Homo sapiens: one gene and its partner. The protein of the gene in region 1 purifies or fractionates together with the protein of each later gene. This does not show direct contact. Each region holds a gene or a part of one and is shown on either strand. Other genes may lie near its edges.

What was found. Proteins that work in one complex are often made in the same cells at the same time.
Region 2: the proteins of CIRSR (region 1) and HPX purify together in Homo sapiens (affinity purification with mass spectrometry; one large-scale study listed by BioGRID and IntAct). This does not show direct contact.

What each region holds. Positions count from the first base shown.
Region 1 is NC_000002.12:174,385,020-174,390,299, forward strand, and holds part of CIRSR (corepressor interacting with RBPJ 1), read right to left. Parts: intron 2,761-5,280; coding exon 2,666-2,760; intron 1-2,665. UniProt on the Homo sapiens protein: May modulate splice site selection during alternative splicing of pre-mRNAs. Regulates transcription and acts as corepressor for RBPJ. Recruits RBPJ to the Sin3-histone deacetylase complex (HDAC). Required for RBPJ-mediated repression of transcription.
Region 2 is NC_000011.10:6,430,191-6,435,470, forward strand, and holds the end of HPX (hemopexin precursor), read right to left. Parts: intron 1,828-5,280; coding exon 1,697-1,827; intron 1,614-1,696; coding exon 1,451-1,613; intron 1,281-1,450; coding exon 1,021-1,280; 3' UTR 859-1,020; downstream 1-858. UniProt on the Homo sapiens protein: Binds heme and transports it to the liver for breakdown and iron recovery, after which the free hemopexin returns to the circulation.

The sequences.
Region 1 (5,280 bases):
ATCAACACAGTGAGTGAGAGACCCTGTCTCTACAAAAAAGAAAAAATTAGCTGGGTGTGGTGGTGTGTGCCTGTAGTTCCAGCTATTCAGGAGACCGAAGCAGGAGGATCGCTTGAACCCAGAAGTTTGAGGCTGCAGTGAGACATAATCATACCACTGCACTCCAGCCTGGGCAACAGAGTGAGACCTTCCTCTCAAAAAAAAAAAAAAAAAAAAAATTTTTTTTTTCATCTTAGGAAAAAAGTATAAAGCGACTAAGGTGATTGATATAATAAACATTAAGAAATCTCTAGGACAGTAAAAACAAAAGAGAAACAATAGATTACTGAAGAATGAAATTGGCTATCAAAAACAGTACTTTTGAATGAGGAAGAAATAAACACTTGGCAAATGACCAATTACTCATAAATTTGCATTCAAATGACCAAACCTAGAAGTAATAATATCTTAGTAGCAATGAACACACTTAGTGCTCAGATCGTGGTTTCTAAATATCATTCACCAATGAAAGGAATCTGGGTGCCTAAGAAAACTGGTTGATTCCAATGCTGCAGCAGGGAAAATAAAAGACGAGTCTGACCACCTTGTGGGACCAGAAGCAGCATTAAAAAAACAAAACAAAACAGGGTTGGTGCATGTTAAATGGATATACGAGCCAATCTAACAGAGCTCTCAATGGCCCAAACTGAAACAACTGGAGCAAGAAAATAAGTAACAATAGTATTATATTATAATCCAAAGAATTAAATAAACAGCCATGAGTCCATATTGATAGAAAATTAATAGTAACTAGATAAGGGAAATTCTTCCTTACAGAGGAATTCAAATTAATAAATGTAGAGGGAATGATAGAAATAGAAAATAACCATTAGAACATCACAGAAATATATAATTGATGCAAGCAAGATCTACTGATGAATACCAAAATTAGGCAAAAGTCCAAGGAGAAACAGGGTATTTGCAGGGCTTCAAATATTAATTAAAAGGGAAAATAGTAACTTTTTTTAAAGATAAAGAATAAACATGAACACTGTGATCTGTTTCAAACCTAGTTTTTCACCTCCACTCTGTTTTTATCCCTCTAACTCAACAACTGTTTCCTGAATACCCTCTCCATTTTCCAATATGTTTTTACTATTAATAATATAAAAATAAGGTTTTTGTTGTTGTTGTTTATCTGAGACGGAGTTTCGCTCTTGTTGGCCACGCTGGAGTTCAGTGGCGTGATCTTGGCTTAGCACAACTTCTGCCTCCCAGGTGCAAGCAATTCTCCTGCCTCAGCCTCCTGAGTAGCTGGGATTACAGGCATGCACTACCAGGTTTGGCTAACTTTGTATTTCTTAGTAGAAACGGGGTTTCTCCATGTTGGTCAGGCTGGTCTCGAACTCCCGACTTCAGGTGATCTGCCCGCCTTGGCCTCCCAAAGTGCTGGGATTACAGGCATGAGCCACTGCGCCCGACCAAATTAGGGTTTTTAAACAGTGATGCTATTGACATTTTGAACTAGATAGTTCTTTGTTGTGTGGAGCTGTCCTGTGCATTGTAGGCTGTTTTGCGGCATCCATAGTCTCCACCCACTAGATGTTGATAGCACCCCAGTCCGCAGTTGTGACAATCAAAACAATGTCTCCAAACATTGCCACGTTCCCTGGGCAGGGTGGCAGGGAGGGCGCAAAAAACGGCGCTCAGTTGAGAACCACCTATCTAAATCCTTATCATTCTTCAGAGTTCAGCTTAAATGTCACCTCTTCCATAAAGTCTTCTGTTAACCTAAATGGAATTATTATTTCCTATACTAACATGCTGTATTTTTAAAAGCAGTGTATGTTTTTAATATATCAGTTATTATATTTGGCCTTCAACTATATGTATTTGTATCTCTTACTAGGGTTTCTTAAGGATAAACTACACTTCACACACTTTTATAGGTCCCTATAATACCACTTATTGCCATGCATGGAGTACTCAATAAAAGTTACTAAGATTAAATAAAATTAGTGAGAAAGCTACTTAACTTTTATTTCTTTAACTTTCCTCTCAATATATTATATTTTAAAGAGTAGTAATAGTTTAGTATTAGTTTGCTAAATTCCATATTTTGATTGAAAACTGAACTTCATGGGCAATTTACCAAAACACCACTATTCAGTGGCTTAAGATTAACCAAGAGAAACCAGCTTCAGTGTTAGATCTGCATATACAAACACAATAGTTAAAGGCAGGTACCATGTTAGAAGACACCAATGAAGAACTCTAGCCACGAAACAGCTTTTAACAGAACAATGACATGCGTGTCAAATAAAGTCACTTTACCTTTCCTCTTGAAAGTATGCTGGGTATCTTTTGTGTTAAAGAAATAAGTCTGTAAGAGGTCTCAGCAGTTCAAGTGTAGACATGATTGTTCTTCTAAGCTTTGCCTAATTTGAGACTTGCTCAAAGACTGTATATGAGTCACGTGAATCTATATTTTACGTGAATTATGGGTAAAGCTGGAAAAAGTGGTCATCTACAGGTATGAGAGTAAAAGAGATAGCCCTCACGGAAAGACACGAATCCTATAATTGGGTATTTGATTCCAAAAAACTGACTTAATATATCATTCAGTAGGAAATTATTCCCATGAAATTGATAATTCTAGATATACTGGCATAACAGAATTTCTTACCTATTATCATATGATTCTTGTTCTTTAAGATATTGCTGCATCAATTCTTCTTGTTTCTTCTTATCATATGATATTTTCTGTTCTGCCATCCATACCTAGATTAGTGAAGTAAAAATGCAAATTAAATTGTTGGATTTAAATTAAACAAACTTTGCTTTTCTTGTATAATAAAATATAAAATGCAATTGTTTAAAGCAGGAGTGCCCAATCTTTTGGCTTCCCTGGGCCACAGAAAACACACTAATACACAGTGGAAGAAGAAGAATTGTCTTGGGCCACACAAAATATACTAACGATAGCCAACGAGCTAAAAAAAAGAAAAGGGCAAAAAAATCTCATAATGTTTTAAGAAAGTTTACAAATTTGTGTTGGGCCACATTCAAAGCCGTCCTGGGCCACATGTGACCCACAGGCCAAGAGCTGGATAAACTTGGCTGAAAGTTTACAACATAATCCAATTTGGCCGCAATTACATCATTACAAATTAACACCTGAAAAATCTGAAGTGTCTTGATACGAGTTCTTTTTATTTTTGAGACGAAGTCTGGCTATCACCCAGACTGGAGTGCAATGGCATGATCTTGGCTCACTGCAACCTCTTCCTCCCAGGTTGAAGTGATTTTCCTGCCTCAGCCTCCGGAGTAGCTGGGATTACAGGACCCTGCCACCACACCAAACTAATTTTTTTGTATTTTTAGTAGAGAAGGGGTTTCGCTATGTTGGCCAGGCTGGTCTTGAACTCCTGACCTCAGGCAATCCGCCTGCCTCAGCCTCCCCAAGTGCTGGGATTACAGGCGTAAGCCACTGTGCCCAGTCCACAGAATGCTTTATAGCAAGTTTGGGTTTTTTCAAAGCTGTATTTATAGTTTAAATTATATTAACTATATTCATAGGTAGTCAATGTTATACATTTCTTATATATCCTTCCAAGATGTTCTAATATATATATATATGCAAAAGAACATATACCACATTCTTCTTATATAAATGGTAACATATTTTACGCAAACACACACACGCACACAAAATATATATAAAATAAAATTATATATCATGGAGATCTGATATGGTTTGGCTGTGTCCCCACACAAATCTCATCTTGAATCATAGTTCCCATAATCCCCATGTGTCATGGGAGGGACCCGGTGGGATGTAATTGAATCATGGGGGCGGTTACACTTCATGCTGTTCTCATGACAGTGGGTGAGTTCTCACAAGATCTGATGGTTTTATAAGGGGTTTTTCCTCTTTTGCTCAGCACTTCTCCTCACTGCTACCATGTGAGGAAGGACATGTTTGCTTCCCCTTCTGCCATGATTGTAAGTTTCCTGTCAATTAAACCTCTTGCCTTTATAAATTACTCAGTCTTGGTCATTTCTTCATAGCAGCGTGAGAATAGACTAATATAGTAAATTGGTATAGGTAGAATGGAGGGCTGCTAAAAGGATACCCGAAAATGTGGAAGTGACTTTAGAACTGGGTAACAGGTGGAGGTTGGAACAGGAAAATGTGGGAAACTCTGGAACTTCCTAGAGAATTGGAGTGCTCAGAAAACAGGAAGATGTGGGAAAGTATGGAACTTCCTAGAGACTTGTTGAATGGCTTTAACCAAAATGCTGATAGTAATATGGACAATGAAGTCCAGGATGAGGTGGTCTCAGATGGAGATGGGAAACCTTTTGGGAAGTGGAGTAAAAGTCTCTCTTGCTAGGCAAAGAAACTGGTGGCATTTTGCCTCTGCCCCAGAGATCTGTGGAACTTTGAACTTGAGAGAGATGACTTAAGGTATCCGGTAGAAGAAATTTCTAAGCAGTAAAGCATTCAAGAGGAAGCACAGCATAAAATTCTGGAAATTCTGCAGCCTGACAATGGAATAGAGAAGAAAACCCTATTTTCTGGGGAGAAATTCAAGCCGGCTGCAGAAATTTGCATAAATAATGAGAAGTCGAATGTTAATCACCAAGACAAGGGAAAATGTCTCCAGGGTATGTCAGAGACCTTCACAGCAGCCCCTCCCATCATAGGCCTGGAGGCCTAGGAGAAGGAAAAAAGTGGTTTCCTGGGCCGGGTCCAGCCTCTCAACTGCTGGGTACAACCTTTGGTCTTCGTGCCCTGCATTCCAGCCACTCCAGCTATGGCCACTGCTTCAGAGAATGCAAGCCCCAAACCTTGGCAGCTTCCATGTGATGTTGGGCCTACACGTGCGCAGAAGGCAAGAACTGAGGTTTGGGAACCTCTGCCTAGATTTCAGAAGATGTATGGAAACACCTGGATGTTCAGGCAGATGTTTGCTGCAGGGGTGGAACCCTCTTGGAGAACCTCTACTAGGGCAGTGCGGAAGGGAAATGTGGGGTCGGAGCCCCCACACAGAGTCCCTACTGGGGTACTGCCTAGTGGAGCTGCGAGAAGAGGGCCTCTGTCCTCCAGACCCCAGTATAGTAGATCCACCAACTTGTACCATGTGCCTGGAAAAGCCACAGACACTCAACACCAGCCCATGAAAGCATCCAGGAGAGGGGTTATACCCTGCAAAGCCACAGGGGCAGAGCTGCCCAAGGCTTTGGGAGCCTACCTCTTGCATCAGCACACCCTGGATATGAGACATGAAGTCAAAG
Region 2 (5,280 bases), on another chromosome or scaffold:
CAACCTCAGCTGGGTTGTAAAGGCAGTGGAGGAACAGGGCCTTGTCTGAGACATAGCTACCTATAGTCTAGGCCCAATTCCCAGTTAAACAGCTGTCAGCAAATTTGGAACCCAAAGCCTTCACCAGTTTATGACCAGAAAATAACCAAGCACTGCAACCTCCTTGCCAGTGACATTTGCTGGTCTAGATGGTGCAGATACCCAGGAGGCTAATTGGGTAGGCCAGATCCTCTGTGCCAGCAAAGCTCCTGAGGCTCCAGCAAGACTCCCAGGGACTGTGTTCTGCAAATGTGCTCCATGGTGCCATTCATTCTTTCTTCTCTCTCTCCAGCTTGCCTCTGACACACAGCTGGTGTATTTCTGTTTCCCCACTTCAACTTCATTCCACTTGTCATGCCTAACTCATGGCAACACAAGCCATGAGTGGTGTTACTTGAATCACCCAGAACCATAATTTGAGGTCCCCCAGATTGGACCTCCTACCCCACAACTCTGAGCCAATCCTCTTTGCACATGCATAGTTGCCCCAGGCCCTGTTGTTTCTGATGCCTTGCGGCTGGGTTGTGGCCATCTACCAGCAAGTTGAATCAGAGTCCTAGCTCCACCTCTTACTTGCTGTATAAACTCAGCTGTTCCTCTTCCGACTCTGGTTCTCTTTCCCCCCACTATGTGTAGATAGTCTGCAAAGAGCTAGTTTATGATCTGGACCTAAGAATCATCTGCGCAGAGATAGGTTTGCCCCTTAGTGCTCCCCTCCCTTGTTTCTCACAGCCTTGTTTGAGCTCGACACCCTCAAAGGAGAAGTGCTAACTTTTCAACTCAAAGAAAGAAGATTGTTTCACGACCAAGGTCCCTTGATTCAAGTGAAGAAGCAATCTGTCTTTATTATGAGAAACTGGGGAGGTGGGGCCAGGCCAGACTCATGTCAGAAGGCCCCTCAGTGAGAAGCGAAGAAGCAATCTGTCTTTATTATGAGGAACTAGGAGGTGGGGCCAGGCCAGACTCATGTCAGAAGGCCCCTCAGTGAGTGCAGCCCAGGAGACTGGTCACATTCTGGGGTTGCGGAAGGGCCTTGGCTGCATTCAGTTTCTCCACATCACTGTAGCAGTACAAATTGGGACCATGGATGAGGTACAAGCCGGGACCATTGGCGGAACATGAGTTAGGGCCAAGGGACTTTTCCATACACAAGGCTCCGTCTACCTTCTCATGGGGCCAAGGAAGCTCTGTCCACGTGGCTTGGGCTCCTGACTTCAGGTCCAGCCACCACAGCCGCCGTCCTGGGGAGAAGGCACCAAACATAGCATGGCTTCCATGTCATGGGGATCCTGACCTAGGCCTTCTCATGCCCTGGGGATCCTGACCTAGGCCTTCTCATGCCCTGGTGGGGATCTATGCCACAGACAGGTAGCAGAACAAGCTGCCCTCTAAGCACCCAGAAGCCCCTCACCTGCCATGATATGGAGCCGAGAAGACCCAGGGCAGATAAAGGCCGCATCCACAGAGTCCAGGATAATCCCATGAGGGGTCCCGACTTCCTTCTCCAGCCGCTTCGGATAACCGCTTACTAGGGTATAGCCTCCCTTTGTCAGGAAGACATATACCTGGGTGCCCTGGAGGACAAAGGATGGTAATAAATACAGAGTTGGATATGCTTGTCCCAGTCTCTACCTCAAGCCTCTCCCCCAATACACACCTGGACCAGATAGAGTTTTTCTTCCCAGGAAAAGGCAGCATCCACTGCTGAAGGACCCTGGGGCCACTGATGAGCAATGGGCCAGCTATGCCAGCCATCCCGGCTGGTGTCCAGACGCCAGTAGTGGGTCCCTGTGGAATACCATAGGTTGCTCTAGGGCCGCTGGCAGAAGCCCAGGCAGAGAAGAGGCTAGTGATGAATGCAGAAATGAGTCATGAGAGGGAGAGAATGCATCCAGAGGCCAAGATGGAAGAGGCCAGGTGAGAAGGAGAAATAGAGCAAGACTTGGTCAGCAATGTTGGGCACTGTGCCCTGGCTGAAACTGGAATCAGCAGGTGCCTGAAAGAAAGGCAAGTGTGGAAAACAGTGGCTAAGTTTCCAGGTAAGGCCAACATCATGGGGTTGGCGGGCACTCCCTAAGGATTTCAGGTGTCCATGTACAGAGATGCGGTTATAGATAATGAAATACAGTGTCCAGAACTTAAAAAGGAAGCACCACTTCTACTGAATGTTCTCACTCTGGCTGTGTTCTCCAGTCTCTCCCTATGAGGTGGTGGAAGAGTGAGGGAGTAGCTGGGCTAGCACCCCGTTTTTCTTCTCCTCTTTTCACAACAACTTATTAAGGAATTATCTAGGCTCCCATTTGTCTTTTTTCCTCAATCCTCTTCAATTACACTTCTGTTTCCCTCAACCATTGAAATTGTTCTTATCCAGGTTGCTAGTATTCTCCAATTTGCGAAATCTCATGGTCAATTCTCTGTTCTCATCTGACCCTACCTCTCAGGAGCACTGGACTGCTCACTACTTCCTTCTCCTTTAAATGTCTTTTTTTGGAACTTGGCTTCTGTGACACCTGACTCTCCCAGTATTCCTCTTATCTTTTTTGACTACTCTTTTCTTCAACCTGATATCTAAATATTGGAATCCCCTACTTTGGGCCTCTTCTCTTCTCTCTCTACCTTCACTTCCTTGGTAATCTCACCTAGTCCAGGGGCTTTAAATGCCATCTATATGCTGATGACTTCCAATCTGTTCTCGTCAGCTCTGACTGACCTCTCCTTTGAGGTTTAGGCTCCAAATCAGCTGCCTACCTGACATGCTTATGGGGTGCCAATAGGCACCCAAAACCTAATATGCCCAAACTGATTTCTGCCCCCCACCAACACACACACTCCCTAGTCTTTCCCAATTTTAGAAAACAAAACCACCAGCCACTCAGTTGCTGAGTCCACGAAAGCTGAGTCATTCTTGAAGCCTCTTTTCCCTTCCCTACTCTGACTGATATCATTCATTCATTCATTTATTTAGAGACGGAGTTTCACTCTTGTTCCCCAGGCTGGAGTGCAATGGTGCAATCTCGGCTCACTGCAACATTCACCTCCCAGGTTCAAGCGATTCTCCTGCCTCAGCCTCCCAAGTAGGCTGAGATTACAGGCATGTGCCACCATTCCCAGCTAATTTTGTATTTTTAGTAGAGACGAGGTTTCACCATGTTGGTCAAGCTGGTCTCGAACTCCTGACCTCAGGTGATCCACTCGCCTTGGCCTCCCAAAGTGCTAGGATTACAGGCGTAAGCCACCACACCCGGCCTATCTTAGCTATTAGTTAATGCTGTCAGCTCTACCTCCAAAATATATCATGGTGATTCCTCACCACCTCTGCTGCTATCATCCTAGTCCAAGCGGTCATCACCTCTAATTTGGACAACTGCACGGATTGCTAGCTGGATTCCTTGCTTACATGCTTGTACTTTTATAACTTATGTTCTGCAAAAAGTCAGAGTGATCTTTTATAAAAAATGAGTTAGAATATATCACAGCCCTGCTCAAGACTTTCTGATGACTCCCTTTTATGGTTGAAAACCCTTACCAGGTCTAGGTAACCTGGCCACTGCCGTCCCTGCCCTTTCAAGTCACCCACCTGCTCTTTCTCTGTGTTCCAGCCTCACCAGGCTTCCTTCTTGATTCCTTGAAGTATGTGCTGCTCACCCTCCCTAAAATGCTTTTCCTCCAGCACATCGTGTGGTTAATTCCTTCTCATCACTGAAGTCTCAGCTCAAAAATCATTTCTTCAGAAGACAGCCCTCATTCTCCTCACCTCTATCCCACTATCCTGTCTTATTTTCTTTACAACCCTTAATATTACCTAAAATTATTCTCTTTCTTCCTTTCTCTTTCTTATTGTCCTCTCTCACTTTAGCAGAGCCTGTCAGGGCAGGCATCTTGTCTGCCATGTTGACTACTGTATCTCAGTGCCTAGGACAATGCCCACTTCTTATCAGATGCTCAACAAATATTTGTTGAGTAAATACCTAGTGTTCTTGCTGCTACCACAAGTTCTCTTATTAGCCGTGTACTGAGTATACAGCGGTGACTGACATATCCACCTCCCCTGGGAGGTTTCCCACTGAAATTACCCTGCTCAGGAACCATATTTATTTTATTTTATTTATTTGTTTTTTGAGACAGGGTCTCAATCTGTCACCCAGGCTGGATTGCAGAGGCACAGTCACGGTTCACTGCAATCTCTGCCTCCCACACTCGAGCAATCCTCCCACCTCAGCCTCCTGAACAGCTGGGACTACTGGTGCATGCCACCACACCTGGCTAATTTTTTGTATTTTTAGTAGAGATGAGATTTCACCATGTTGCCCAGGCTGGTCTAGAACTCCTGGACTCAAGTGATCTGCCCCCCTCGGCCTCCCACAGTGTTGGGATTATAGGCATGAGCCACCACACCTGGCCCAGGGGCCCTATTTTGAGAACCAGAGCTATGCTGCTTTGTGCAATGAAGTAAATGATGAGTTCCCAACCCATTAATGTAGCCAATACATAGGCTGGCAATCAACCACTTTAATGTGGTGTGGTCTGAAAATATGGACTGGGCCATTCAGATTCCCTCTCTGGAAATCTTACTAGGAAAAAAGAGCAACTGAGGGAGGTATCAGTTGGAACTGAGACTGAAAGATCATGAAGTAGTGAGAAAGTGGAGAGAACATGATGGTCCACGTGCAAGCCAAAGTTGTGAAGAAGCAAAGAGAATAGATAAAAACCTATGAGGGGCCAGGCGTGGTTGCTCATGCCTGTAATCCTAGCACTTTGGGAGGCCGAGGCAGGCGGATCACCTGAGGTCAGGAGTTCGAGACCAGCCTGGCCAACATGGTGAAACCCTATCTCTACTAAAAATACAAAAATTAAATTAATAAATAGTACATTGTAACCCAAAAAAAAATACAAAAATTAGCCAGGCATGGTGGTATGCGCCTGTAGTCCCAGCTATACGGGAGGCTGAGGCAGGAGGATCGCTTGAACCCAGGAGGCAGAGGTTGCAGTGAACCAAGATTGCGCCATTGCACTCCAGCCTGGGTGACAGAGTGAGACTCCATCTCAAACAACAGCAACAACAACAACAAAACTGTGAGTCAGAGAAAGAAAAATTTACCAGTGAGAGGGGAGGGACTGCCCCATGCTGTAGCTGGGTCATGTTGGTGATTTTACCAAAATAGTGCATTCTCACCTCAGCTAGGTATATATATATATATATGGGTTTTTTGTTTGTTTGTTTGTTTTGTTTTGTTTTTTGTT